Linked DNA regions of Homo sapiens: all the other regions are linked to region 1. The links come from fine-mapping of genetic effects on gene expression. A gene starts in region 1. Each other region holds a variant in brackets. All regions are shown on one strand. Distances are between the middles of the regions.

What was found. PIP is the estimated chance that this variant, and not a neighbour inherited with it, causes the effect.
Region 2: its variant is fine-mapped to the expression of TTC39B in whole blood (TOPMed, PIP above 0.99).
Region 3: its variant is fine-mapped to the expression of TTC39B in platelets (CEDAR, PIP 0.95). The same link has a PIP of 0.9 or more in whole blood.
Region 4: its variant is fine-mapped to the expression of TTC39B in monocytes after interferon gamma (Fairfax 2014, PIP 0.95).
Region 5: its variant is fine-mapped to the expression of TTC39B in whole blood (TOPMed, PIP 0.97).

The regions. Positions count from the first base shown.
Region 1 is chr9:15,305,271-15,310,595 of GRCh38, forward strand. It overlaps TTC39B (tetratricopeptide repeat domain 39B), which reads right to left and starts at 1,946. Exons shown (of 20, transcript NM_152574.3): 1 at 1,814-1,946. The coding sequence starts at 1,855. RefSeq lists enhancers at 584-1,147, 1,711-2,273 and silencers at 1,511-1,830, 1,861-2,200.
Region 2 is chr9:15,946,893-15,951,892 of GRCh38, forward strand. The region is part of intron 25 of CCDC171 (coiled-coil domain containing 171); the gene reads left to right. Among named protein-coding and RNA genes, the nearest start is that of LINC03041, 330 kb to the right of the region's middle. The variant G/A (reference allele first, on the strand shown) is at 2,368.
Region 3 is chr9:15,265,037-15,271,303 of GRCh38, forward strand. TTC39B (tetratricopeptide repeat domain 39B) reads right to left here. Exons shown (of 20, transcript NM_152574.3): 2 at 2,878-2,912. Among named protein-coding and RNA genes, the nearest start is that of TTC39B, 39 kb to the right of the region's middle. The variant C/A (reference allele first, on the strand shown) is at 2,637.
Region 4 is chr9:15,330,482-15,336,748 of GRCh38, forward strand. No RefSeq gene overlaps it. Among named protein-coding and RNA genes, the nearest start is that of TTC39B, 26 kb to the left of the region's middle. The variant G/T (reference allele first, on the strand shown) is at 3,309.
Region 5 is chr9:16,097,600-16,103,866 of GRCh38, forward strand. It overlaps a transcript of CCDC171 not described here. Among named protein-coding and RNA genes, the nearest start is that of LINC03041, 180 kb to the right of the region's middle. The variant ACT/A (reference allele first, on the strand shown) is at 2,556.

The DNA.
Region 1 (5,325 bases):
ACTGAGAACCATAAAGAGGCAAAACTATGCCTTCTCTAAGGCACCTACCAAGTTTGAGCCCAAAGTAAATGCTCAATAAACGCTTGCTCAGTTTATAGCAATGGAAGTGGTAAACTGTGAGGGACAAAAGTAAATTTGGCATGAACAAAGAATTCAATTTGTATTTTGCTCATCAACTAGGACTAGTACAGTACCTAGCATGTAACAGAAGCCTAATAGTTAATGAATGAAGAAAAATAAATGAATGATATGGCAAAAACTGAGTTGTTATTAAGCAACATCTTTTCTGCAGTCTTTCATTCATTCAACAAATATTTATTTACCAAGTATCTGTGTGCCAGGCTCTCTGCTACTCTGAAACCTAACTTCCACCCAGAGTTTCACCCACAGAAACCTAACTTCCCTCCTCATCGGCTAATGCATCTCAACCGTTCATCTAGTAGGCAGTGAGCATAGCTGGGGTGACCATTTGTCAAAGTATCTCCGAAACAGTCCCAGTTTACACCTATTATCCCAGTGTTAATTAATAATAGCACCGCCTCAACAATGCCCTAATCTAGAGAATTACATAGTTCTAAGCACAGCAAATCTCCTACAAACAGATCGGGATTCAAATATTTCATTCTACAGTCTTGGGATCCTCAATGCAAGGGACAGGCTGTAAGCAAGGGTCTGGACAGCCCGGCTTGCCCTCTTGTCTCTCTGTCATGCAGAGGAGCTGTAGTTCAGTTTTTGTTTTTTGTTTATTTTACGGAGCACATTTAAAGTATAGTCTTCCTTGTCAGGAGATTCCTGGCACTAAAGAGATGGACGGGAAACTTAACCGCCTCCTCCAGATCGTCCACTATTGCATCATTTGAAACCAAAGCCTTCTAAAGGCAGCGACTCGCACAATTCAAGTCAGGTAAGATGGCAGGAACAGCAGCTGTGGGTGCTGGCTGCTGCTGGAGCCTCGGTCTCAACTTCAAGAGCAGGGAGAGCGCTGTCTCTGGAGTTGCCAGGTGCTGAAATGAATAGTCAATAAATCAACAGGTCCGGCGCGCTAGCCCCTGGGTGCTCAGGCCCGGGCGCGCCACGACTGAAGGAGTGGCTAATTACTCAAACACAGTTGAAACCAAAGGAGGCCGGAGTCGGTTCTCAAAGTGGTTTCCCTCCGGCCACCACCGACTCTGAGGACCTGCTAGGGGAAGTGTCCCGGCCCCGTGGAGGGAGAGGGAAGCACCACAGCCTGGGCTGCGGCTCTAGCCCTCCAGCCCCAGCCCCTGGCAGCCCTGCCCTGCTGTCGCGGCAGGTACCCCTCTACTCATTGTTCCTCAGGCTGCCCCCTCTTTTCATCAATCGTAAGCCTTTCGGTTCTGCCACCAGGAAACTTCCATAGAAGGTGAGATTCCCAGGTCGAGGGATGATTCCACGAACACCCAGAGAGCCAGTGCCAGGACTTCAGGGTCAGACTTCGTAAAGCCCAGGCGTCGCTGGGCCGGCCCGGAACAGCTCAGAGCTGCGGGTCCTATGGTCCCGCGCCCTCACGCCCATCCAAGTGCTGGCAGGACGTGGGTCCTCCATCCCCACGACTCGCGGGGCCGGCGCTCCGAACCTCGGCACTGCGTCCGCTCCGCGCGCCGCAGGGACCCTCCTAGCTCCAGCGGGGACAGACCTACCAAGGCCGGGCGCCCCCACCCGGCGCCCGCCAGCCCACCCCAGAGAGGGGACCAAGGGGGCGGGGCCTCGGCCGTCCTAGCCGGGCTCACTCTTCTCTCCCGGACTCCTGTCCAGGGCTTCAGGGGCCGGGCCCGCAATCCCCATCGGATCGTACCTCGTCCGCTTCCAGCTCCGCTCGGCTGCCTAAGAGCGCCATATTCCTCCTCTGGCTGCTGCCACCCAAAAACCAAGCAGGGAACTCAGAGCCGACTCCTGCTCTCGGCTCTGGGCTCAGCCCAGCGCAAAGGAGGGCAAAAGGGGACGGCCCGGCGCTCCCTCCGGGTCTCGGGCGGGGCCTGAGTGCAGCTACTCGATTTCCCCGCCCCCGGAGCCGGCAGGCCAGCACAGCATCCATTTCCTCCCCGGACGCCGCGCCGCTGGCCGGGCCACTTGCCCGGCCCCCAGCGGGCGGCAGCCCCGCCCAAGTGGGTGGAGTCACCTCCCAGATAAAGTTTCCCGGTCTGGCACGCCCTCTGGGAGGGTTTCCTAAGCTTTCCTGCCGCCTGTTCTCTGCGGTGGCTGGGCACACCTGGAAAGAAGCTAGAGAGCGCGGGCATGACGAAGCCAAGGTCAAAGCAGCGCCCCACCTGGGGTCCGTGGAAGCATCCACCTGGTCTTTGGTCCGGTGCCAGTCCTTTTCCCTCGCCAGGTGGCCACCGCATCTCGCAGATGGTGTGGCCTGAGGGCAGCCTTGGGTCACGGTCACTGGTCCCCGAGAGGCCTCTGACACACCACCCACCTGGACTGTAGGTGGAAGGACTCTGCTTGCTTCTGTGTTCAAAAAATAGAAAAAAACGCGGGACAGAGATTTATACATATTGGAACTCCTCTACTTCCCCCTACCCGGACAGTGTATTCTCCCCATAGCATCCTGTATTTTGTAACTCCAAACATAGGTGTATAATTCGTGCTTGAACTATAAACTCCATGGGGGTAGGATGCTATCTGTCCTCTTCAAGACTGTATCCCCAACACCCAGAACAGTGTCTTGCACATCGTAGGTGCTCAACAGATATTTGTTGGCTGAGTTTAGAAACTGAACCTTGCTTCTGACATGTAAAATAACTGGAAAATTAAAAGCTAGATCTTTAAGAGTTTGGGGGAGAGAGGTCAGATTTACTTTACATACAGAAAAATGCACCAAGTTAAATGTGTGATTCAGTGACAAGTGTTTACAAAGCATCCCAGTCATAATATAGAACATCCTGAAAAGTTTTCTGTGACCCTTTGCTGTCAATTTCCTACCTCCGCTCCCTAGCCTCTGTCAATCACTGATCTGCTATCAACATCGATTTGCCTTCTCTAGAATTTCATATAAATTTAATTAGAGCATGTGGTCTTCCATGTCTGGCTCATGAAAGGCTATTTAATAGTCATCCAGTGATAACTGTAAAAACAGCTAATAGTTCTTGAGTCCTTACTATGTGCCAGGACTCTACTGAACCTCTTGCATATAGTATTTCATTTATTCTTCATAACCCCATAAAGTAGGGTGCTGTTCTCTTTCAGATGAGTAAACTGAGGCTCAGAGAGTTCAAGTAATATGCCTGAGGCCAGACAGCAGTTAAGTAAGTAGGGATGCCAGCATCTGAACCCCAGCAGTCTAACTCTAGGGCCTAGCTGATAACCATTGCTTTGTACTGTACTGGCTCTAGCCACCCTCCCTCTCTTTCTTTCTGTGTCAGTAGAGCAGTTGTCTGTGCAAGTCCATTACATACATTTTCAGTGAGTCACTTTGCATCCTTAATACTTGCTGTACAATTTTAATGGCTTGGCATGTACTTTTGTACTAGAATAATAAAATGGTTTCTACAGCAGAAACATTGAAAAAATGGGTTAGATCGTGTGATGGTTGCTCAACTCTCTGAATTGTCTAAAAATCCTTGAATTGTGTACTTACAATAGGTGGAACTTATGATTATGTAAATTATATCTTAGTAAAGCTGTTTTAAAAAAACTAGCTGACACAGGCTAGGTGTGGTGGCTCACGCCTGTATGGGATTACAGCACTGGGAGACTGAGGAAGGAGGCTAACTTGAGTTTAGGAGTTCGAGACTAGCCTGAGCAACATAGCAAGACCCAATTTCTAAATAATAATACTTTTTTTTTTTGAGAGACAGTTTCACTCTCATCTCCCAGGCTGGAGTGCAATGGCTCGATCTTGGCTCACTGCAACCTCCGCCTCCTGGGTTCCCACTAATCTGTAAATTGCTTAGAAGGAGGCACTATCTTATTCATCAGTGCAGGTACTCAATAAAAAAGCTCCAGGTGCAGTGGCTCATGCCTGTAATCCCAACACTTTGGGAGACCGAGGCGAGCGGATCACGAGGTCAGAAGTTCGAGACCAGCCTTACCAACATGGTGAAACCCAGTCTCTACTAAAAATACAAAAAGCAGCTGGGCATGGTGGTATGCGCCTGTAATCCCAGCTACTGAGGAGACTGAAGCAGGAGAATTGCTTGAACCCTGAAGGCGGAGGTTGCCGTGAGCCGAGATCGTGCCATTGCACTCCAGCCTGGTGAAAAGAGTGAAACTCCGTCTCAAAAATAATAATAATAATAATACTTTTATTATTTAGAACACATGCTCTGAACACTTAGAATCAGATGGACCAGAAGAGACATAGAGTTTGTTTAATTCCAATACCCTTGAAAGTTTCCATTCCTTCCCAGACCCCCAACCCACTCCTACCTCCTCCTATGTTTCACTTTCTGAGGCTAGAATTCCTATCCAGGTCCAGATTCTACTCTGTATTACTCATGCATGGTTCTGTTTTTCAAAGTTCATTGGTTCCTGAATTGATAGCACATCCTTTTGACATGAAGCCATCTCACTGGTAGCTTCTTCTCCCATATGCTGTTATTCTGCCTTTGGAATTTCAACTCTTCAAATTTTGAAGAGATCCAAACAAACTTCGCTCTAATTAGTGACAGAATTATGTTATAATGAAAATCGAGTACAATTTTTCAAAAATCTATACTTATAATTGAAGCTTGATTGGTGTTTTTGTTGTTGAATTTTTTACATATCAGGGATCAAACCTGAAGTCTCGTATGTTTTAAATTCACGGCAGGAGATAAGCAACATTCATGTTTCAATTATAAACACTGAATGAATAAATGTATTCTAGCCACTGGAACGTCTAATCAAATTTGCTTTGCTCAGGGCAGCTGTCAGCTTTGCCTATACAAGAGTGATTTTATCGTGAATCACAAATATAAAAGTTTTTCTTCAAAGAACAATTAGAATGGATTTGTTTTTACACAGAATTCCCCTTGCAAGTTTGCTGATAATGTTATACTCTAGCAGTCAAGTGAGATTACTCAGATATTCCATATCCCAGAAGTAATTAGCATAGAGATCAAGCAAGAGGGTATCTGAATCATTTCATTTTGAAGCCACACCTACTGGGAGCTGTTTGTGTTTCAAAATAAATCTAATATTGTAAACAATCTAATCTTCAGTATTCCTGAACATGTTACCTTTAGCTGATAGTTTTTTGCTGGTACTTGATTTAAGTGAAAATTGAATCTTCATGATTTGTGTGGTAGGAGAAGCTCAAATCCATGAAATAAGTGCTCATTGTAAATCATGTGTTTGTCAGTGACTTTGTCTCACATTCGTGTC
Region 2 (5,000 bases), 640 kb after region 1:
ATTGATGACGGGGAGATAGCACTTTTATATATAAACACTTTTTTTCTGAATTACAGGGTTTTGTTGTTTAGGTTGTACAATTAGCATTTTAATCTGTCTCAGTTTTATTGTATCATAAGAATCTGTGATAATAAAATTACATTCATTTAGAAACTAAAAAACATGATTCTAACAAGTCAAACTAAGTTGGGATTTTAGAAAGACAACAAATACCTATAATATGAATTTGGATAATGGAAGAACAAGTGATGTGTGTCACCATTGTTATAAACCCTTTCTACATATATTTATTAGAAAATTATAGTTGCATATATATCATAGAAATTCTGAGACCTTAACATTCATAGACGTTAAAAACTTATAGGGTGTTTGTGGAATTTATGGATAAAAGCTTATGTTATGACATCACTAAATACACTTTTAAAATACCCTACTTGTATACCCATTAAACAGTAATTTCCCATTTCCCCCATCTCCCTAGATCCTGGCAATCACCATTCTATTTTTTCTCTATTATTTTGACGACTCTAAGTATTTCATATAAGTAGAATTCTACAGTATTTGTCTTTTCGTGCATGGCCTATTTCACTTAGCATAATGTCCTCAAGGTTAATACATGTTGTAGCATAGTAGCATATATCAGCATTTCCTTCTTTTGTAGGGCTGAATAATATTCCATTGTATGTATATAGCACATTCTGCTTATTCAGTCATCCATTGATGGACATGGGTTACTTCCTTGTTTTAGCAATTGTGAATAATGTTCCTACGAATGTGGGTATACAAATATCTCTTCAAGACCCTACTTTCAATTCTTTCAGGGTTATACCCAGAAGTGAAATTACTGGATCATTTGGTGATTCTATTTTTTTTTCCCAGTGGTTCATAATGGGCATACAAGTATGCTTCCATATTTTTTTTAATTTTTTTATTTTTTTTTAATTTATTATTATTTAGGTTTTAGAGTACATGTGCACAATGTGCAGGTTAGTTACATATGTATACATGTGCCATGCTGGTGCGCTGCACCCACTAACTCATCATCTAGCATTGGGTATATCTCCCAATGCTATCCCTCCCCGCTGCCCCCACCCCACAACAGTCCCCACAGTGTGATGTTCCCCTTCCTGTGTCCATGTGTTCTCATTGTTCAATTCCCACCTATGAGTGAGAATATGTGGTGTTTGGTTTTTTGTTCTTGCGATAGTTTACTGAGAATGATGATTTCTAATTTCATCCATGTCCCTACAAAGGACATGAACTCATCATTTTTTATGGCTGCATAGTATTCCATGGTGCATATGTGCCACATTTTCTTAATCCAGTCTATCGTTGTTGGACATTTGGGTTGGTTCCAAGTCTTTGCTATTGTGAATAATGCCGCAATAAACATAGGTGTGCATGTGTCTTTATAGCAGCATGATTTATAGTCCTTTGGGTATATACCCAGTAATGGGATGGCTGGGTCAGATGGTATTTCTAGTTCTAGATCCCTGAGGAATCACCACACTGACTTCCACAATGGTAGAACTAGTTTACAGTCCCACCAACAGTGTAAAAGTGTTCCTATTTCTCCACATCCTCTCCAGCACCTGTTGTTTCCTGACTTTTTAATGATTGCCATTCTAACTGGTGTGAGATGATATCTCATTGTGGTTTTGATTTGCATTGCTCTGATGGCCAGTGATGGTGAGCATTTTTTCATGTGTTTTTTGGCTGCATAAATGTCTTCTTTTGAGTAGTGTCTGTTCATGTCCTTCGCCCCCTTTTTGATGGGGTTGTTTTTTTCTTTTAAATTTGTTTGAGTTCATTGTAGATTCTGGATATTAGCCCTTTGTCAGATGAGTAGGTTGCGAAGATTTTCTCCCATTTTGTGGGTTGCCTGTTCACTCTGATGGTAGTTTCTTTTGCTGTGCAGAAGCTCTTTAGTTTAATTAGATCCCATTTGTCAATTTTGGCTTTGGTTGCCATTGCTTTTGGTGTTTTAGACATGAAGTCCTTGCCCATGCCTATGTCCTGAATGGTAATGCCTAGGTTTTCTTCTCTGGTTTTTATGGTTTTAGGTCTAACATTTAAGTCTTTAATCCATCTCGAATTGATTTTAGTGTAAGGTGTAAGGAAGGGATCCAGTTTCAGCTTTCTACATATGGCTAGCCAGTTTTCCCAGCACCATTTATTAAATAGGGAATCCTTTCCCCATTGCTTGTTTTTCTCAGGTTTGTCAAAGATCAGATAGTTGTAGATATGTGGCATTATTTCTGAGGGCTCTGTTCTGTTCCATTGATCTATATCTCAGTTTTGGTACCAGTACCATGCTGTTTTGGTTACTGTAGCCTTGTAGTATAGTTTGAAGTCAGGTAGCATGAT[G/A]CCTCCAGCTTTGTTTTTTTGGCTTGGGATTGACTTGGCGATTCGGGCTTTTTTTGGTTCCATATGAACTTTAAAGTAGTTTTTTCCAATTCTGTGAAGAAAGTCATTAGTAGCTTGATGGGTATGGCATTGAATCTCTAAATTACCTTGGGCAGTATGGCCATTTTCACGATATTGATTCTTCCTACACATGAGCATGGAATGTTCTTCCATTTGCTTGTATCCTCTTTTATTTCATTGAGCAGTGGTTTGTACTTCTCCTTGAAGAGGTCCTTCACATCCTAGGTATTTTATTCTCTTTGAAGCAATTGTGAATGGGAGTTCACTCATGATTTGGATGTCTGTCTGTCTGTTATTGGTGTATAAGAATGCTTGTGATTTTTGCACATTGATTTTGTATCCAGAGACTTTGCTGAAGTCGCTTATCAGCTTAAGGAGATTTTGGGCTGAGACGATGGGGTTTTCTAGATATACAATCATGTCGTCTGCAAACAGGGACAATTTGACTTCCTCTTTTCCTAATTGAATACCCTTTATTTCCTTCTCCTGCCTAATTGCCCTGGCCAGAACTTCTAACACTATGTTGAATAGGAGTGGTGAGAGAGGGCATCCCTGTCTTGTGCCAGTTTTCAAATGGAATGCTTCCAGTTTTTGCCCATTCAGTATGATATTGGCTGTGGGTTTGTCATAGATAGCTCTTATTATTTTGAGATACGTCCCATCAATAGTTAATTTATTGAGAGTTTTTAGCATGAAGGAGTATCAGCGATGGAAGATGAAGTGAATGAAATGAAGCGAGAAGGGAAGTTTAGACGAAAAAGAATAAAAAGAAATGAGCAAAGCCTCCAAGAAATATGGGACTATGTGAAAAGACCAAATCTACGTCTGATTGGTGTACCTGAAAGTGACGGGGAGAATGGAACCAAGTTGGAAACACTCTGCAGGATATCATCCAGGAGAACTTCCCCAATCTAGCAAGGCAGGCCAACATTCAAATTCAGGAAATACAGAGAACACCACAAAGATACTCCTCGAGAAGAGCAACTCCAAGACACATAATTGTCTGATTCACCAAAGTTGAAATGAAGGAAAAAATGTTAAGGGCAGCCAGAGAGAAAGGTCGGGTTACCCACAAGAGAAGCCCATCAGACTAACAGCAGATGTCTTGGCAGAAACTCTACAAGCCAGAAGAGAGTGGGTGCCAATATTCAACATTCTGAAAGAAAAGAATTTTCAACCCAGAATTTCATATCCAGCCAAACTAAGCTTCATAAGTGAAGGAGAAATAAAATCCTTAACAGACAAGCAAATGCTGAGAGATTTTGTCACCACCAGACCTGCCCTAAAAGAGCTCCTGAAGGAAGCGCTAAACATGGAAAGGAACAACCGATACCAGCCGCTGCAAAATCATGCCAAAATGTAAAGACCATCGAGACTAGGAAGACACTGCATGAACTAATGAGCAAAATAACCAGCTAACATCATAATGACAGGATCAAATTCACACATAACAATATTAACCTTAAATGTAAATGGACCAAATGCTCCAATTAAAAGACACAGACTGGTAAATTGGATAAAGAGTCAAGACCCATCAGTGTGCTGTATTCAGGAAAGCCATCTCACGTGCAGAGACACACATAGGCTCAAAATAAAAGGATGGAGGAAGATCTACCAAGCAAATGGAAAACAAAAAGAGGCAGGGGTTGCAATTCTAGTCTCTGATAAAACAGACTTTAAACCAACAAAGATCAAAAGAGACAAAGAAGGCCATTACATAATGGTAAAGGGATCAATTCAACAAGAAGAGCTAGGTATCCTAAATATATATGCACCCAATACAGGAGCACCCAGATTCATAAAGCAAGTCCTGAGCGACCTACAAAGAGACTTAGACTCCTACACATTAATAATGGGAGACTTTAACACCCCACTGTCAACATTGGACAGATCAACGAGACAGAAAGTCAACAAGTATACCCAGGAATTGAACTCGGCTCTGCACCAAGTGGACCTAATAGACATCTACAGAACTCTCCACCCGAAATCAACAGAATATACATTTTTTTCAGCACCACACCACACCTATTCCAAAATTGACCACATACCTGGTGATTCTATTTTTAATTTCTTGAGGAGCTACCATAATGTTTTCTACACTGTTGTACTATTTTACATTTCCACCAACAGAGCAAAGATCCTAATTTCTCCATCTTCCATTTGCTTGGTAGATCTTCCTGCCAACACTTGTGATTATCTGTTTTTTGTTTGTTTGTTTGTTTGCTTGTTTTTTTAAGTAGCCGTTCTAATGGGTAGGAGGTAGTATCTCATTGTAGGTTTGATTTGCATTTCCCTAATGATTAGTGATGTTGAGCATCTTTATATGTGCTTATTGGTTTGTTTGTTTTTTGGAGAATGTTGATTTAAGTCCTTTGCCCATTTTTTAAATCAGGCATTTTGTTGTCATTGAGTTTTAGAAGTTTTCTATATATTCTGGATATAAATCCCTTAACAGATACATGATTTGCAAGTATTTTCTCCTGTTCTGTGGGTTGCCTTTTTACTCTGTTCATAGTGTCCTTTGATGCACACAATTTAAAAATTATCAGGAAGTTCAATTTGTCTGTTTTTTT
Region 3 (6,267 bases), 40 kb before region 1:
GGTATCAAATATAAATTGTTTCCCTCATGGACCTAACAAATGGTGCTGGAATAGTGGGCTAGCAATTTTAGGGCTGGTGTGAGATAGGAATCTAAATTAACTTCAGCTGGGTTGAATTTAGGGCTTTTGTTTATTTCTGTGGTTTGATTTTTTTAAAAACTAATAGATGTTAAAAAAACTGCTTGCAATGCCTTCCTGAGGTCCCAAAGGTAAAGCCACTACCAGCCTACTGAAGCCAGTGGGAGCTCAGAGAAGCACAAGCATCAATGTGCACTGCTCAGGGGTCACACTGCTCCCACTGGTCAGTGAGACCCGTCCTCCTCTGTGAGGTCTGCACCCCTCTCTGTTGTGTGTGGCATGCTAGCTCCCGCTGGGAAAAGCAGTGTCTCCTCTGGTGAACTCCAATCACCAGCCCCAAGGCCTGATCCTTTTCCATCCCCTGGACTGTGATCACCTACTATAGCCCAAGCTCAATTCCTGCCAACACCAAGGGAGGAGCAGGGTTGAATAATTATAAGATTTCTGAATGGCGATCACTTGCCCACCATAGAAGTGATTTCTTAAAAATCACATAAACAGATTATCTTCCAAAGAGTACTGTATAAAAAGGGAGGAGGGGAAAAAGGGCAACTTCACAGTGGAAAAACCTGACAAACACTACCCATGCCATGTGACCAAGTTCAACATCGGTAGTGCTAAGTCACATTGATATCGTGGATCTTTGCTATGATGTGATAAGAATGGCCCTTTCCATCTGGGGTCTTCTTCCCAAAAACACATGACCACAGTCAAATCATGAGGGGGGAAAAACAGACCAATCTCAATTAAGGGCCATTCTACAAAATAACTGACAGTACTCCTCAAAACTGTCAAGGTCACCGAAAACGAGAGTCTGAGAGACTGTCACAGCCAAGAGGAGCCTAAGGGGACATGACGACTAAATGTAAAGTGGTATCTTGGGTGGGATGCTGAGGCAGAAAAAGGACACTAGGTACAAACTAAATAAATCTGGATAACGTATGGACTGTAGTTAACAATAATATATCCATATTGATCATTAATTGTGAGAAATGTACCATGCTAACTTAAGAAATTAATAATAGAGAAAACCTGGGTGGGGTACACAGGAATACTCTGTACTACCTCCTCAATAATTCTGTAAGTCTGAAACTGCTCCTAATTAATAGGTTAATCCCAATCACAATTAAGTTTTTTTTTTAAAAAATCATATAAACATGAAACTTTTGGACAAAATAAAAATGTATAATACTAAAATAAAGAAAAATTGCAGTCTGGAGGAAATATCTATAGCAAATATGACAAAAGATTAGGGTATATATAATTTAAAGTCCATAAGTATGTTAAGAGAAACATTCTGAAAAAAGCTAAGAGACAAAAGAAAATTAGAAGTCATACAAAAGATGCAATGTATTTTTAAAATAATTTTTAAAAATACTAAAGTAGGTATCATTTAAGTTGCAAAACTGTTTTTGAAATAATACCCAGTGATGATAATGTGACAGTTTAAACCACTTTGCTTACATAGTATTGGTAGCCAAGTAAATTGATAATACTCCTGTGGAAGTACTGTAAAACAAACGGTGCCCCTCTACCCCCACCTGTACATGCACATGTTCAAGCCCAAACCCCCAATGTGATGGAATTTAAATATGGAGCCTTTGGGAGACAATCGGATTTAAATGAGGTCAGGAGAGTGGGGTCCTCAGGATAGGATTAACACCCTTATAAGAAAGGACATCAGGCAGGGCGCAGTGGCTCACGCCTGTAATCCCAGCACTTTGGGAGGACAAGAGGGGCAGATCACGAGGTCAGGAGATGGAGACCATCCTGGCTAACATGGTGAAACCCCGTCTCTACTAAAAATACAAAAAAAATAGCCTGGCGTGGTGGCGGGAGCTGTAATCCCAGCTACTTGGGAGGCTAAGGCAGCAGAATGGCGTGAACCTGGGAGGCGGAGCTTGCAGTGAGCCGAGATCGTGCCACTGCACTCCAACCTGGGCGACAGAGCGAGACTCCGTCTCAAAAAAAAAGGACACCAGAGAGCTTTTGCTCTCACTCTCTCGGCCATGTAAGAACACAACAAGGAGGCAGTCTGCAAGCCAAGAGGAGAGCCCCTACCAGAATCCCAACCATGCTGGCACCCTTAACTCAGACTTCTAGCCTCCAAAATTGTGAGAAAATAAATTATTGTTGATTAAGCCACCCAGGCTATTGTGTTTTGTTATAGAAGCTGAAGTTAACTAATACAGGAAGGCAATTAGAGATATACAAAGAACAATAAACATATTCATCCCTTTTAATTCAGTAATCCTACATTTGTTATGTTAACCTTTAGAAATAATTCAAAATATAACAAAGCTATACACATGTAAAACTTAGTTCTACATTTCTAAGCCAGTGACAACCTAAATGTCTAACAATGGAGAAGCAGGTAAGTAAATTGTAATATTCCATTTGATCTAATATGATTTAGCAATTTAGAATTATTACAAAAACTATATAGGCTTACAGTGAATGCTTTTAATAAAACTAAGTGCAAACCAAACACAAAAATCTACAAAATGAGACTGACATAAATATGAACAACTATTAAAAGAGTTAGCTATAAACAAATA[C/A]TTTGTTGAGAAATATTTTATTTTGTTACAAGAAATAATACTCAGAAATGTATCTGAAAGTATTAGATAGATCCTTTCTTAAATATAATCACATCCTCTTTAATTATAGAAAAGTGACTTTTTTTTTCTGAAAATAGCCATTGCCGTACTCTCCAAAAAATGAGAATGAAATATTTACTTTTTATGTAAGACAACCATCAATTTTTCCTTACTACATACTTTTTATTATGTTATTACTTACATTGAGATGGTTTCCAAGGCATCTTCGAAAACGTCCTGGGGGAAATAAAAAATACAATGAGTTTCTCAAGAATTCTCAATGGGTTTCTCAAGAATTCTAAAAGAGAAAATGAATACACGCATTGGGGAGAGTGGTCCTGGCAGGAAGGTATAGCAGGCAGTAGAATCAATCAACTTAACGCTTATGGAATTCTGTTTACAGAAATCAAGCAGATGCATTTCAGTGACGTTTAATTTTTTTTTTAATAAGGCTGGTAAAATACTCAGCAAGTGATCAAACTGGCCTAATTTAAAGAGACTATGACGTCTTTTATGAAGTTACCTTTCACTCCTAAATCTCATTCTTCCCAACTATAGAGTAAAATAAATAAGAGGACTTGCCCGATGTAGTCTTTTCTTTCTCCATGGCTAGCCAAGTGAGCATCCTCTGGGCCTTCATTTCACATATTGCACCACCCTCTCAGCTCGTCTCCCTGCCACCAGCCTTTCCCCCAGTTTACTCTGTGCCACACAGGATAGCCCTTTGCTTCATGCCACTGGCCTGATCACAGCTGCAACAGGAGAGAAACGCACACAGTCATATGCACTCAGAAGACCACACACACACTCCACACTCAGACACAGTGACTCACACACAATCTCACAGTCACACATACAAATACACATGCACTCACTCAAAAACTCACACATTCACAACAGCTCCCTCACAGCTGCAAAAACCAAACCTAAGCTCCTCATCCAGGTATCCGGGGTCCACCACAACCCAGCTTAATCTTCCAAGCATCCTTCTCTGACATCCCTACCACTCTTACCATAGCCCAAGCCACGAGACCTCCAAAGGGCCACCTCACTGGTCTCCCTACTCCTGTGCTTGACACCCTCCATTCAATTCTTCACATGACAACAATATCATTCTTTTACTTCATGTTTTTGAATAAGCATACACCATTCCAGTTTTCTAGACCTCTTCAAGAGCTTTCCATTGCATTTAGAAAAATCCCAAACTCATTCTCCCTATCTACAGAGCCCTAAAACAGCCCCGCCAGCCTCTGACCACATCCCCTTACTCACTCGACTCCAGCCACAGGTCTTTCTTTCCGTTCCTTGGACAAGTCAAACATCCCACAGCTCTCTGCACTGTCCCCTTTCTTATAATGTCCTTTGCTCAATTATTCCCATGGCTGACTCATTCTCATCCTTTGATTTTCAGCTTAGAAAGCCACCTCCTCAAGAAGAACATCTCTGATCACCCTAATTAAAATTACTAGGAATAGCAGCTTACATAAAGTTCCTCATCATTTCATTTGTTTCATTCATAGCACTTATCATAATCTCTAATGATCTTCCTTGTTTACTTGGTCACCCTCTGTCTCCATCAGAGCAGGCTCTTACATACACAGAAAAAACACCAGGGCTTCGCACCAGGGTTTGCTCAATAAATACTTGTTGCCTAATGAATGAATGAATGAATGAATGGAACCTGGACCGCCAAGGGACTTACCGTATCACACCTCATTTAGAGTTATGCACAGAAATGAGGAAAGGGGGCTAGGGATCTTTTCCCTTGTGTGGCCATTAATACTGAACAAGGTTTAGACCATACTGGATTCTGCGGTGAGGCAGAAAAAACAAAAGTGTAAATACTAAAAAGAAGAACCTGGCCAGGCGCAGTGGCTCATGCCTGCAATCCCAGCACTTTGGGAGGCCGAGGCGGGTGGATCACAAGGTCAGGAGTTGGAGACCAGCCTGGCCCACATGGTGAATCCCTCTCTCTACTAAAAAATACAAAAAAATTAGCTGGGCGTGGTGACATGCACCTGTAATCCCAGCTACTTGGGAGGCTGAGGCAGGATAATCGCTTGAACCTGGGAGGCGGACGTTACAGTGAGCCGAGATCATGCCATTGCACTCCATCCTGTGTGACAGAGTGAGACTCCGTCTCCAAAAAAAAAGAAAAAAAAAAAAAGAAGAACCGACTGGACCTGGTGGCTTACACCTGTAATCCCAACACTTTGGGAGGCCAAGGCTGGTGGATCACCTGAGGTCAGGAGTTTGAGACCAGCCTGGCCAACATGGTGAAACCCCATTCCTACTAAAAATACAAAAATTAGCCAGGCATGGTGGTGCATTTCTGTAATCCCAGCTACTTGAGGAGGCTGAGGCACAAGAATCACTTGAACTCAGGAGGCGGAGCTTGCAGTGAGTCAAGATTGCCCCACTGCACTCCAGACTGGGCAACAGAGCAAGACTCCATCTCAAGGAAAAAAAAAAAAAGTTGTAAACAGTGGCAGAACTGAGTTTGAGTTTGGGACCCTGACCTATTAATCTACATTAATATCATACTCCATAAGGGAGGTAAAATCAAGGGCCAGCACACAGGTTATCATGTGAGTAGTTACAGAGAAGGGAGGAAAACGTATTCTCCAGGAACCCAAATCTCACTATGATAAGCCCAGCTCATAGTCCCTCCGGCAGCTCTGCAGACTCCCTCTGCACTTACCAACAATAGGGTACATGGACAGCCCACTCCTGGGAGCCTTCTGTGCCTTCTCCTCCTCCTCACAAACCTCAGCATGGACACTAAAATACTTACTGAGTGAGCGACGCAAAGGATAACTTGGGAAGCCAACCCTCCGTGTAAAGAAGATAAGACTAATATTTTCATCTAAACAAGAAGTATTCCCACCCCTCCATCAAAAAAAGAAAAAAAAAAAAAAGAATATCAAGCCAGGTGGTGCACACCTGTAGTCCCAGCTACTCGAGAGGCTGAGGTAGAAGGATGGCTTGAGTTCAGCATGGACAGTATAGTAAGACCCTGTATCTAATAACTTTTTTATTTAAAAAAAAAAACACGATTTCAAGAATATCGAAACTCTCCATTTTGTTGAAACAGTAATCACGGGGCAGAGAGTTTTCTAAATAAAGCATATGTGGTCTATAAAGGCCAGACAAAAGGTGGAAGTGTCTTAATTTTAAAAAAGGAAAGGTGAAGAGAAGAACTAAGATTTACTGAGTACCTATCATGTGCCAGGCACCTTACAACCTTACAAAAGCTATTTCATGTGTTCCTCCCAACATACAGCAAGTTAAGCCAGTTGTAGTTTAATTACTTGCCCAACATTACACAGTGAAGAAACTGGGGTTCAATCTCAGGCTTAAAACCAAAGCATTTTATTAATGTCAATACAAACTATCTAAAACTTGGAAATTAGACAGTTGGGCAGGATGGGGAGGGGGTGGGAGATGAAGGGGTGCCATATCCTCTCAATGTAATATGGTAGCATTGTTTTACAAGCCTCCCAAGGATTATTTAACTCTCTAGAAGAGTGTATTTGTGTTTAATTTTGCCATCTGCTGTCTGATTGGAGTCCGCACACTGTGAAGTTACATG
Region 4 (6,267 bases), 26 kb after region 1:
AAAAAGGCACATTCTGAGGGGTTTGAGAGCTGTGCACCAAGGCACAGACCAGGTGCAGTTTATTAGTTCAAAGAATCCAAGGACAGAGTTCAGAGAAACCATAGCAGCTGGAAACTGAGAAGAGAAATCCAGGAAAAGGGAGAGGTAGAGAGGAGAAGCTTCAACTTCTCTGGGTATTACCCTTTCGCTGAACCTGGCTGACGTCTGAACCAGGCACATATGCCAACTCCAAGCTGCCCAGATAAGGTTAAAATAACCAAACTAAAATTCTGCCACTCACTGCAAGGAAAAAAGTGAAACTGTTGTGTTCAGCCAAGGCAACCAACTGATTTATTTAAAAAATAAAAATAAAAAACAATACTATTCAGAGGCTCTAAAAGAATCCAACTCAAACTCCGGTGTGTTAAAAGCTATCTTCCTACCTACTGCACCTTACCTCTTTACAATCTATTTAATCTCTTTTTAAGCTTTGTTAGATGGGAATGAGAAAATTAGCACATCTTTCTGGAAAACACTGTAGCAAAAAGTAACAAGAGTTTAAAATTGTTTGTACCTTTTATCCTTCCTGGGACAAGAGGACACCTTTACAAATTCACTTCTTGCTTTTAGGTAAGTAAAGGAAGGGCAGAGAACTTTTCTTGTATCTGCTTCCTCTCAGTTGCCTTCAGCTCAAAATAATCTTCATGCCAAAGTGGCATATTTTGGGTTTGCATATTCTGCTACTCTTAAGTTTTTAATCATAGCACTATTTTTCATTTGTAAAATTGCATATTACCTACGAGACAGGGAAAGATTTAAAAGTTTCATAAAATGCTATGTTGGAAAGGCTTATTGTTGATATTGAGTTGTTGTTGTTGTTGTTGTTGTTGTTTTTGAGACAGGGTCTCACTCTGTCAACCAGACTGGAGTGCAGTGGCATGAACACAGCTCAGTGCAGCCTCAATCTCCTGGGCTAAAGTGATCGTCCCACCTCAGCCTCCCATATAGCTGGGACCACAGACATGCGCCATTACACCTGGCTAAGTTTTTAAATTTTTTCTAGAGATGGGGTCTTGCCCACACCAGTCTTGAACCCCTAGACTCAAGCAATCCTCCCATCTCAGCCTCCCCAAGTGCTGGGATTACAGGTGTGAGCCACTCTGCCCGACCGATACTGAGCTTTTCATTGCAACAATTCTAATGAGGGCAATTTAGCAATAATCAACCAGAATTACAAATTTCCTGCAATTCCACATCTGGGAACTTATCCTACAGATATACTCACATATATGTGAAACTACCTATGTGCAAGGTTACTCATTGCAGTGATATTTTTAACAACGCAAATTTGGGAACTACTGAAACCATCCATCAGTGAGGGATTGGTGGCCAGGTGTGGTAGTTTGTGCCTGTAATCCCAGCACTTTGGGAAGCCAAGACTGATGGATGGCTTGAGTTCAGGAATTCAAGACCAGCCTGGGCAACATGGTGAAACCCCATCTCTACAAACAAAGTACAAAAATTAGCTGGGCATGGTGGTGCATGCCTGTAATCCCAGCTACTTGAGAGGCTGAGGTGGGAGGCTCGCTTGAGCCTGGGAGGTGGAGGTTGTGGTGAGCCGAGATCAGCCACTGCACTCCAACCTGGGTGACAGCATGAGACCACATCTCAAAAAAAAATAAAAGAATTGTTGATACTATAAAACAATGGAGTATTATTATTCAGCCTTAAAAAATAAAAATAAAAATGCCAGGTGCAGTGGCTCACGCCCATAATCCCAACACTTTGGGAGGCTGAGGTGGGCAAATCGCCTGAGCTCTGGAGTTCGCGACCAGCCTGAGCAACATAGTGAGACCACCGTCTCTACAAAAAATACAAAAAAAAATTAGCCAGGCATGGTGGTGCATGCCTGTAGTCCCAGCTACTCGGGAGGCTGAGGCATGAGAATCGCTTGAACCCAGGAGGCGGAGATTGCAGAGAGCCAAGATGGCACCACTGCACTCCAGCCTGGGGGACAGAGCGAGACTCCATCTCAAAAAAAAAAAAAAATTAAAATTAAAAAATAATAAAAATAAGGATTCTCCTTAAGTACTAACATTGAATCATTGCCAAGATATATAAAGTAAAATAGGCAAGGCACAGAACAGTATTAATTGTTCCCTATTATTCTTTCTCCCTTCTTCCAAAAGTTTTAGCCAGACACATGACCATCAGGAGTAGACTACATTTTCCAGTGTCCCTTGCAGCTAAGAGTGGCTATGTGATTGAAGTCTCCTCAGTGAGATATGAGCAAAACTATTATGTGGCAGCTTCCAGGTCCCTTCCTTAGACAGAGGTATTATGTGGCCTTTGTTTCTCCATTGGACACATTCTTCATTGGATACACTCCATCCTGCTCCCGGGAAAGTAGTTCTCTCATCTTGGTTCATGATTGAACTGGAAGAAAACCAAGTCCCTTTTGGAGCTCACACACATCACAACTCTGGACCACTCTTGGAATTTCGCATGACAGTGATATAACCATCTTTTTTAAACCATTATTATTTGGGGTTTCAGTTATTTGAAGCTGAACCCAGACCTATCTCTTACACAAGTATAAATTTTGCAAGACTTATATCTGGCTAAATTGCCTGCAGAAAGATTGTGTCAATTTGTGCTGCAATAAGTGCTGTATAAATGTGTACAGAGCTTTTTTTTGCCACACTGTGCCATCTCCTGGATACCAGATGCCAACTGCTCGCTGGATCTAGAGACAGGTAAAAAGAATCTACAAATGTGACCTGGATGCCAGGACAGGCAGAGGCACCAGTACCAGCAAGAAGCTTCAGAAATAGAGTAGTTATTAAAATGACCATTTGCAGTGAGAAAATAAATCACTACAAACTACCAACTACCAGAGGCTAGGAGATTCAGGTCCCTTACTTGTGACATCTCTTTAGGCAATTTATCATAAATGCTTTTATATGGATGCATCCTGCTTACAATCTGGCTTCCCCTTCCGCTTAGGTCACCCTTTAACTCTCTGTAAGTCCCAGCACCCACAGAATCTGAGCAAGTGAAGGACCAGGAATTTTAAACCTCAGTAAAGTCCACCGTGCTGTTAATGTTAATCTGCCCTGAGCAGACACACCTTGTAAATACTCTGAGAATAAGGTTCAAAGTACCAAGGGCACTTGAGGAGGACATGGCTTTGCTTCAGTCAGGGAAGATTTCCTAGAAAAGTTAATGCTTAACAGAAGCCAACAAAGAAATGAGTGAAAAACGGAAGAGGAACTAGGATTTCTGCCCAGTTGGGAATTTTGGCGTTTACAAAACACCATTGAAACACT[G/T]ACTCAATTATCATCTTCCTCCTGGAAAGACAGAAGTCTTCCCTATGATGTTAAAGAGGACACATTTTCTTTTTTTTTCTTTCATCTAATTCTCAAAATAGTTTCTTTCTTTTATGTTTTAGATTCACTTTTTCCATCTGTTTTTTAATCTTTTCAGTATAATGCCCATTCTTAAAGACCAAGAGATTAAAATTGAACACCAGCTTTCATTAGCATCCAGGTCAAAAATATATATTAATATGTGCATTTCTAAAGGTAAAGTTCTAGTTAGGTCATGCTCTAACCTATAGACATGAACACTCATAAAAGGGAATTTGTTAGGAGGCCAAGGTGGGCGGATCACCTGAGGTCAGAAGTTTGAGACCAGCCTGACCAACATGGTGAAACCCCATCTCTACCAAAAATACAAAAAATTCGCCAGGTGTGGTGGCAGGCGCCTGCAATCCCAGCTACTTGGGAGGCTGAGGCAGGAGGATCGCTTGAACCCAGGAGGCGGAGGTTGCAGTGAGCCGAGATCGTGCCACTGCACTCCAGCCTGGGTGCGACAGAGCGAGGCTCCATCTCAAAAAAAAAAAAAAAAAGAGAATTTATCATAGCTGAGGTCCGTGTTGTCATGGAGACAGAGGTAAGGGCTCCTCTGACAGATGTTCTCGTTCCTTTTGATTCCTTACTCTTCATTCTCTTTTCTTCTCTAACTACAGGATTCCATATATACCTCCTCTGACCTAACTCCTAAAGTTTTTCTGACTTGACCCTTTTCTCATTCCATGTGCTATCTCTCTGGATCATCTTATCCACTACCCTTGTAAACTGTTATCTTTAAATAGAGGATTTTCAAGTCAACGGCTCCAGCCAGACTTCCACCCAGCTCCAAGTCTATGTTTCCATCGGCCACCTTGACATCTCCTCTCACACTTCTCCTGGTGCATCAAACCTCTCCCAGTCAGACTGCGAGAAAACTCAGTCATTATTGACTCACTCCTCTTCCTCATCACCATATTTGATCAATCACCGAGTTCTATCATTTCACCTTTGCAATGCCTATTCTCTTCATCTGCCCAGAATATGGGTAAGCAAGCCCCAATCATTTCTCACTCGACTTTTCAGGAATCTTGCCAACTCCAATTCCTTGCCTCATCAATGGATGCTTTTCGTTAGGGAGGCAAGATGGCACAAAGTGGCCAGGTTCCAACCAGGGTCAAATAGAATCTCTGCTCCCCTGCTTTGTGCCTCCTAGCAAGTCATCTCCTCCAGCTAAACCACAACTGCTTTATGTAGAAAATGGGGCAATAACTCATAAAGATGTGGTAAGGAGTACATAAAATAATCTATGCAAAATGTCTAGTACATATAAGTACTTAATATATTTTACCTGGTTTTTTTATTTTGTTTTGTTTTTGTTTTGTTTTTGTTTTTGTTTTGAGATGGAGTCTTGCTCTGTTGCCCAGGCTGGAGTGCAATGGCACAATCTTGGCTCACTGCAACCTCCACTTCCTGGGTTCAAGCAATTCTCCTGCCTCAGCCTCCCAAGTAGCTGGGACTACAGGCATGAGCCACCACACCCAGCTAATTTTTTGTATTTTTAGTAGACACGGGGTTTCACCATGCTGGCCAGGCTGGTCTTGAACTCCTCGCCTCGTGATCCGCTCACCTCAACCTCCCAAAGTGCTGGGATTACAGGCATGAGTCACTGCACCTGGCTTTATTTTACCTGTTACAGCATAACTCTTAACGTCTAACACATCATGAAGCCTGTATTTGTATAAATACAGGCTTCACCATGTGCTAGACATCACTAGTGCACACTAGGGCTTCTCGCCTTTGGGGCACATGGAAGACTTCACTTCCTAACCACCTTCCAGTTAAGTGGGACCATGTGACTAATTCTAAAAAATGAGCCAAAATGTAGATTGGGTATGAGATTTTGATGAGTTTTTTTCTCCCATTTGATGACCAAGAAGGCCATGTGTTCCAGGTGGCACTTCTACAAGATGGTAGAGGCTCCTCAGCCTGGGTCTCAAGTTGCAATAGATACCAAGTATGAGCAACTCAGATTGGGGAGCTGCTATTATCACAGCAAAGCTTAGCAGGTGGTATCCCAACTAATACAGGACATCTCATTTCCTACTTCTCAATCCTGGGGATAGGCCCTAACACGTGTAAGATTTCCTAAAACAAATGAACTAGCAGACAGCAAAAGTTCTAGTTATTTAGGGACAAAGGAATGTCTGCAGTTCTCATTTATTTTCCAAAGTTATTACATCTGTATATATTTACTTATAAGTGATTTTAAAAACCAAATGAGGCTGGCATAAGCAAAATAGGAAACTGATTAACATATGTAAATTAGATGTCCAAGAGCCGACAAGTATTGGGCATGCTGGATGCAGGGGCTTAAGGTAGATATCAAGGATTCATTCTTGCCCTTTTCATAGCTCAGGTCTCTTTTCTTTTGTGATAGACGCATTTGCAGACAAAGTCTTCTCTTTTATTGGAAAGATGATTGCCAGCAGCTCCAAGATTACGTTGCTTTCTATTAGCTCTTACAAGTTTTCTAACTTGAGCACGAAGAGTGATTCTTTCTCCCAACCATTCTGGTAAAAAGTCCTGGGATACAATCTAACTGGACCAAAGTCAGTCATATACCCAGTGCTAAACCAGTAAATATGACCAGAGAAATAAGATATTCTGATTGGCCACTCTACACCATGTGTCTAGCCCTGATTCACAGGGTAGGGCCATCCACAGTGAAGCCACATGGACTAAAACAGAGGAATGGAGGTTCCCCAGGAAAATCAAGGAACTACTACCAAAGAAGACAGAATCGACACAGGGTAGCTAAAATGATAGATGTTCACTACAGACATTAATACAATGCACCTGGCAATGTTGGTGAACTATGTAATCAGTTAAGGAATTTTATGAAGTCCTGAGTATAAGCTTAAAACCTACTATGTCT
Region 5 (6,267 bases), 790 kb after region 1:
CTATCTCAAAAAAGGATGAATCTTTACCTAGCATGATCCTTGAATGTTTCCAGTAGATGAGGCATGACCATATACTTCTATGTTCTGCTAGTTTTGCCAGGGCAAGCCTTGCTAAGACTGCCCTGGGTTTAAGGTGCACCATTTACAAAGAGGCTCATTGAGATAAATAAGTGCATCTCTCAGAACGAATCTGATCTGTGTTATCGGTGAGAATCCAGACACAGCATCATTGAACTTCAAATGTTGCTACTGAGTTAGAGAGAAAAAGAGACTGACTGACTTGCATTTCTGCCTTCTTTGCACCCCATGCATCCTGCCCTAGGTGGTGATCAACTTTATGTTGGTACCAGTCAGCTTCATGTTAGGAAATGTTATATGGAACTAGCAGTTAGCAGTGCCTACTGTGAGAAATAAGGAGCTAGTCCGAGCTTTAAAGGGAAAGAGACACGAAAACAATCAGCGTAGCCTTTGTAGCCAAGTGTTTTGTTCAATGCAATCCATTAGTTATTGAGAACATACACATCACGGTTTAAGTCAGAGTTCGGCTATCTTTTAGCTGAGAGACTTTGGGCTAGCTAACATCGCTGAGCCTTTTTTCCCCTAATGCATAAAATGGGGCTAATATTATTACCCTAACTTACAGGGTCATTTTGAAGAGTTCATTACATTCAAGCATGAACATGTGCTTTAAAGTGTTTAAAATGTAGTGGGTCAAAACAAATGGTCTCTAGTGTCATCATCACCATCATTGTTGTCGTCGTCGTCATCATCATCAAGGACTTCATAGCCTGGTTGGAAGAATATGTGAATAAGAGCTGCTATTTAGAAAAAAATGTGTTCATTCTGAGCAGTTTCCCTCAGAAGGAGAATAAGAAAGCTGGCTTTGGTCCACACTCTTGAGTGTTGGAGTAAGCCACCTAATTTCCCTGAGCCCCAGTTTTGGCATATGTACAATGGGCTGATCATATGTCCGCTTCCCAGTGTACTGTGTTAATGAAGTCGATGAAATGAAATCTAGTACCTTAGAACACAGAATTACAAGGGATTAAGAGTGCTCCTAACTTAAAACACTACTAGTTGGGTTTTTGCCACCTTGAATTGCTGTCTCAATTCACAACCAGTGTTTTAAAGATCCCTTTCTGTTTTCAAAAACAATTTATTGATCCATTTTCCTATGGAATATTCCCCCTTTGAAGAAATAGACTTACATGTGTTAGCCAGAGAAAGCATCTAAATTGGGAGTGGGGGAGCAATGATGGTACAGTGTGCTGTGCACATATGTGGGCACGGATGTTCCTAGAAAAATTGAGACTGCTCTGAGGATTTCCAGTGCCAAGTCCTGCATCAGGGAGGGCTCATTTTGTAGCTCTGACATAGGATGGATATAATAAGCCCTTATTTGGGAAAGCTTTCATTTGGGGGAAGATTTTTAATAATTTTTCTTAAAACTGAAAAACTGGTCAATATCAAATCCAGTTGATTCCAGACTGTTTAGAGAGTGACTGTCATGTGTAAGACCCTGGGTTTGAAAAATTCATCTCTTTAAGGCTTATTTAAAACATCAATTTTTTGCTAATTCTTGGAGATTTAATAAAGCACCACCAGGCTTTTAGATACCCTTAGAGGGGTTAACATCAGAATTCTTCTTAGGAGCCTTGGTCTGTGCCATTGGGGTGCACCCTGTTCCCCCTGGTTTATTCTGCTAAGTTTCATTTCACAACAGAGGAAAAGTGGCAGAGGAGCCTCCAGGCTGGGAACATGGATGGGAAACGCCATCGCAGTGGCTCTCAGAAGGTTCTGGTGAGCAAGGCTTCACAAACACAGGGCAAAGATGTGGCAGGTGAAGAAGCACAAGGGAGCGTGATGCAACCTGAAGACGAATCAGCTGTTTCTGATTTATTGTTGCACACCATTTTCTAAGCATTTCTGATGTCCTTTTCATAAGAAAAATGCCATGAGCTTCCCTAGCGACTTCTGAAACAAGTCTCTGAGAAGCAGCTTGTGGAAGGCACCTTTGTAGGAGGTGCATGAAGGGGGCATCCAAACTCCCATGAGTCCATCCCAGTTTGCCATATTCGTGGGCTTCTGGTGGGTGACCACAGTCTGCACTGATTTGGCAATGAGATAGTCTCAACAAGAAAGAGATCGCACAACAAAGTCATTTAACAAGGACAATGATTAAGAAAAAGACTCAAATAGATCCTCTTCTGCAAGTGGTTAGGGAACTCAGAACAGACACAAGTTAGTGCATGTTGGCCAAATATGAAGATGGAAAGAAAGAATGATTATAAAGACATCCACCCACCCTCTCACTGGCCATTGCTTGCCTGTGGAAAAAGGCCAGTCTATGACAAACTAGAGACTCTTTGAGAAACCAACGCTGTATGGAGATAGCTTTCAAGTTAAAAAAAAAAAAAGAAAAATCTAATCCAGGCTTTGCAAAACATCAGTGAATGCATGTAATACCAGCAAAACCTGAGCTTTCAATAAATCAGAAAACAATGGGGGCATTGTCTGAACTCACCAAACAGTCCTTCGCTCCCACAGCACAGAAC[ACT/A]CTAATCTGTGTGCAGCCAAAACTCAGCCCCATCTTATTGAACTAAATTGATTTATGAGAGGAAAAACCTAAAAAGGGAAGCAGCAAAATGATGATATTAATTCTAATAATGCATTGACTGGTGCTTATATAAATCACTCTCCCCACTCAGATTGATTTCATCCGAGTAAAAACGCCATGCATAAGCCTATCTCCAGCCGCTCAGCTCAGGCAGCTACCTCAGGCCTCCTCTTGCAGATAGAGCTCAGGATAAAGGGTGGGGGGTCTGGTGGAAGTTCACAGGTATTTTGCCTGAGAAAGGCCTGTGGGATCAGCCCCAGAGGTATCGATGTAATTGGCCACACACACAAATGTTGCGGCATCTGAACATTTTTGGCAGCTCATGAAAGCTCCTTTCCTAGAGGCCACTTGAGTGTCCAAATAAAAGGGGATTTTTGTTAGTGAGAACTGGAAAGAATAACCCATCTTAGGATCAGGCTAATAGGGCCTGGCCTGGTAAAATGTAACACTGGGCTGGCCAGAGTTGGAAGTGTTGCTGGCAAGGGTTGGAAGCAGCTGCGAGGAGAGCCAAGCCTCGCTCCCAAGGAAAACTCTTCTGCTGGTTCAGGGGAGTTTTCTGTAGCCCAGAGAGCCTGTCAGGCGCCCCCCACCCCGCCCCCCACCAAGGGCAAGAGCTTCTGTTGGGGCAGATGGGAGGGGGCCTGGGGTGGTTTCTTGCTCCCCCTTCACCCAAGCTCTCCTCTCCGATTCCCTACCCCATCCCCCAGGCTCTGTGATTCTAGGCAAGCGAGCCTCTGTGGCTGACCTCTGTGGCCTGTTGCTGCACACAGCCTGGGAACGGCAGTTGCTCTCAGTGAGTATGCAGGGTGTTGACAGGCTCAGGCTGAAGGAGCTAGGAGGGAAGCAGAGAAAGCCGGGCTGCAGAAATAAGGCCACAGAGGCCTTCTCTTATCACCAAAGGGCCCCCAGCTGAAGAAAGGTCTACTGCTTCTTGCTACACAAAGGAAATACATTCTGCTGCAAGCCAGTCTCTGCCTTTCAGCAGAGCCTGTAGGCTCTCCACCTAGGGTGGCCAGGTAACATACAGGGCACCCAGTTAAATTTGAATCTCAGATGAACAATGAATAATATTTTAGTATACATAGGTCCTGAATATTGTGTGAGAAATAATTAAAATGTATTGTTTATCTGAATTTCAAATTTAATTGGGCATCTTGTATTTTTATTTCTTCTATTAGGCAGAATTCTGAGATGCTCCCCAGTGACCCTCCCTCTGGTATAATGTCTTACCCCAAAGTGTAGGTGAAACCCGTGAATGTGATGCAACATCACTCCTGTGATTATGTTACACTACATGGCAAAAGGGATTTTTGCAAATGCAATTAAGCTCACTAATCAGTTGACTTTATCAAGTTAAAGAGCAAATTATCTGGGTGTGCCTAACCAAACTACATGAACCCTTTAATTCTGGGTCTAGAGTCCAGAGAAAAAGGAAGTCAGGCCTTTGAAGCAGTAGAAAATTGTCCAGTGACCTTGAAGGAGCAAACTGCTGTGTTGTGGAGAAGGCCACAGGGCAGGGAAGAGTGGTCAGCCCCTAGGAGCTAAGAATAGCCTCCAGTTGACAGCCAGGAAGAAAGCAGGGAACCTCAGCTCCATGCTGCAATGAACTGGGTTCTGCCAACAACCTGAGAGCTGGGAAGAAGCCCCAAGCCTCGGACAAGATGGCAGGCCTGGCCAACACCTTGACTTTGGCTGTGTGAGACCTGAGTAGAGAACCTGTCCAGAACATGCCAGACTCCTGAACCAGGGAAACTTTGAGGTATAAAAATACACGTTGTTTTAAGCTGCCGAGTTTGTGGTAATGTGTTCTGCAGCAATAGTAAACCAAAACACCTATTAAATCTGGCAGCCCTCCCTGCATCCTGTGGTCTCCAGCGTACACTTACAGGGGTTTCTGGTGTAGGCACCAAGGACTGAAGATGAAGAACAGTAAAGGAAACAGATGCACTGGACTAACTCCTGTGAGCCTCCTCCACAGTCAAAGAGCAGGGCTAGAAGGGAAATTACGATATTGTCTGTTTTGGTGTCCGTGTCCTGGCCTCCTGGACCCTGCAGCCCCAACATCTCAGTTGAGATCTGTAGACATATACACACGCGCTTGCTCTCCTACACACCTTCCTTTCCAGGGAGGATTGCGGGGGATGAGCTTGTCACTTGTCTCAGACGGATGTAGTTGCTGGCTCGCTAAGTAAACAGGTCATCTCAGCCAAAGTTCATTATGGATCTGAAGCTGTAGAAACAGATGCATTTCATGTAAGGATAAACGTGTGTTGGGGGGGGGCGGGGGTGGGGGCAGGGGGGAGGGTGGGTACAAATATAAACAGGGAAGGTGAAACCGTCTAGAACCTCCTTAGGCATGGATTAAGTTTCTGTGAAGATCATGTAAATAAGCCCTCATAGTCTACAAGAAACTCGGATATCTTTTTTAAAAGGGTCAGAAGATCTGTTTGTGTTTTGCAATTCTCCAAATGTTCTTCTGCTTATGGATTCCCCTAAATTCACTTTCCAACAGCTCTTCGTCCCCCTGGCCTCATGCTGCCCTTGAAAGTGGCCGGAGGAAACTCTTAGGTGTCAGGCAGTCAGCATGGAGAGCTTCTTTTCATCCCCTGAGTGTCTGGAGATGTGAGTTTAATGAGAGGCATCGACCTTTGAATTATACAAATGGACCTCTTTAGCAATCACTTCCCTCCCCAGTCCATACCCACCCTCAGCTTTTAATCTTCTCAATTATATTTCCTTTCCATTGATTACTACTTTGCTAACTTTCGGATTGAGCAGGCAGAAAACCTCAGCCGCACAGGTAATGCAATTGCTCTTCAAGCTTTGACGCCTGCGTCTCACCTCCTGAGGGGACCTGCAGGCCCCCCTCCCACCCTTTTGGGTCTTGGCAGGTCCATCGGCCTTCAATTGATTTTGCAAGATGGCCCCTTCCATCCAAAGAGCTGTGCAATCCTGGTTAGGAAGATGGAGTTTCAGTTCTGAGCTTTAAGTAACAAAGATAAGGGGGATTTGCATGCTGGCAGGGTGTGAGAAGGGCACTCACAGTCACCAGCTGTTTGCAGCTAGGCCTGGGAGTGGGCAAGGGATGGGCCTGGGAGCAGGGAGATCTGGGTTCCTTCCCCACCTCTGCTCTGATTTTTTGAGTGACCTTCATTGAACCACTTAACTTTCTGTGCTTTCCTCTCACTGCCATCTGTAAGGGGGAAGACAACGGCACTTGTCTGTGAAAATGCTTTGAGGGATACTGGCATAAAAGATGCAATGTAAAAGCAAGTGATGGGCAATGTTTTCCATAAAGAGCCCCTTGTTTTCATCTGCAGGAGGCCTCATTTGAAGGCTAAGAAGAAAAATTGAGAAATGTCCTTGGTAGCCGAGGCCAGGCAGAGGACGTGGCTTGGGACCTGTTAGAAATCCCTTCTGTGGCTGGGGGCTCCTGCGCTGCTGCCGGGATGTGAGCTCAGCAAGGGGCATGCTGGGAATTGGCCTGCAGAACAAACAGATCCGAGGTCTCTGCACCGAGCAGGACCAAGGGCCATATCAGGATTAGCCCAGTGACCTGACAAGCGGCGAGGGGGGCCTGCCCCCCAGTGATTTACGGGCTTTGACGCATGGACTCCGGGGGGGCTGGGGGAGAGTCAGAGAAATTTGGG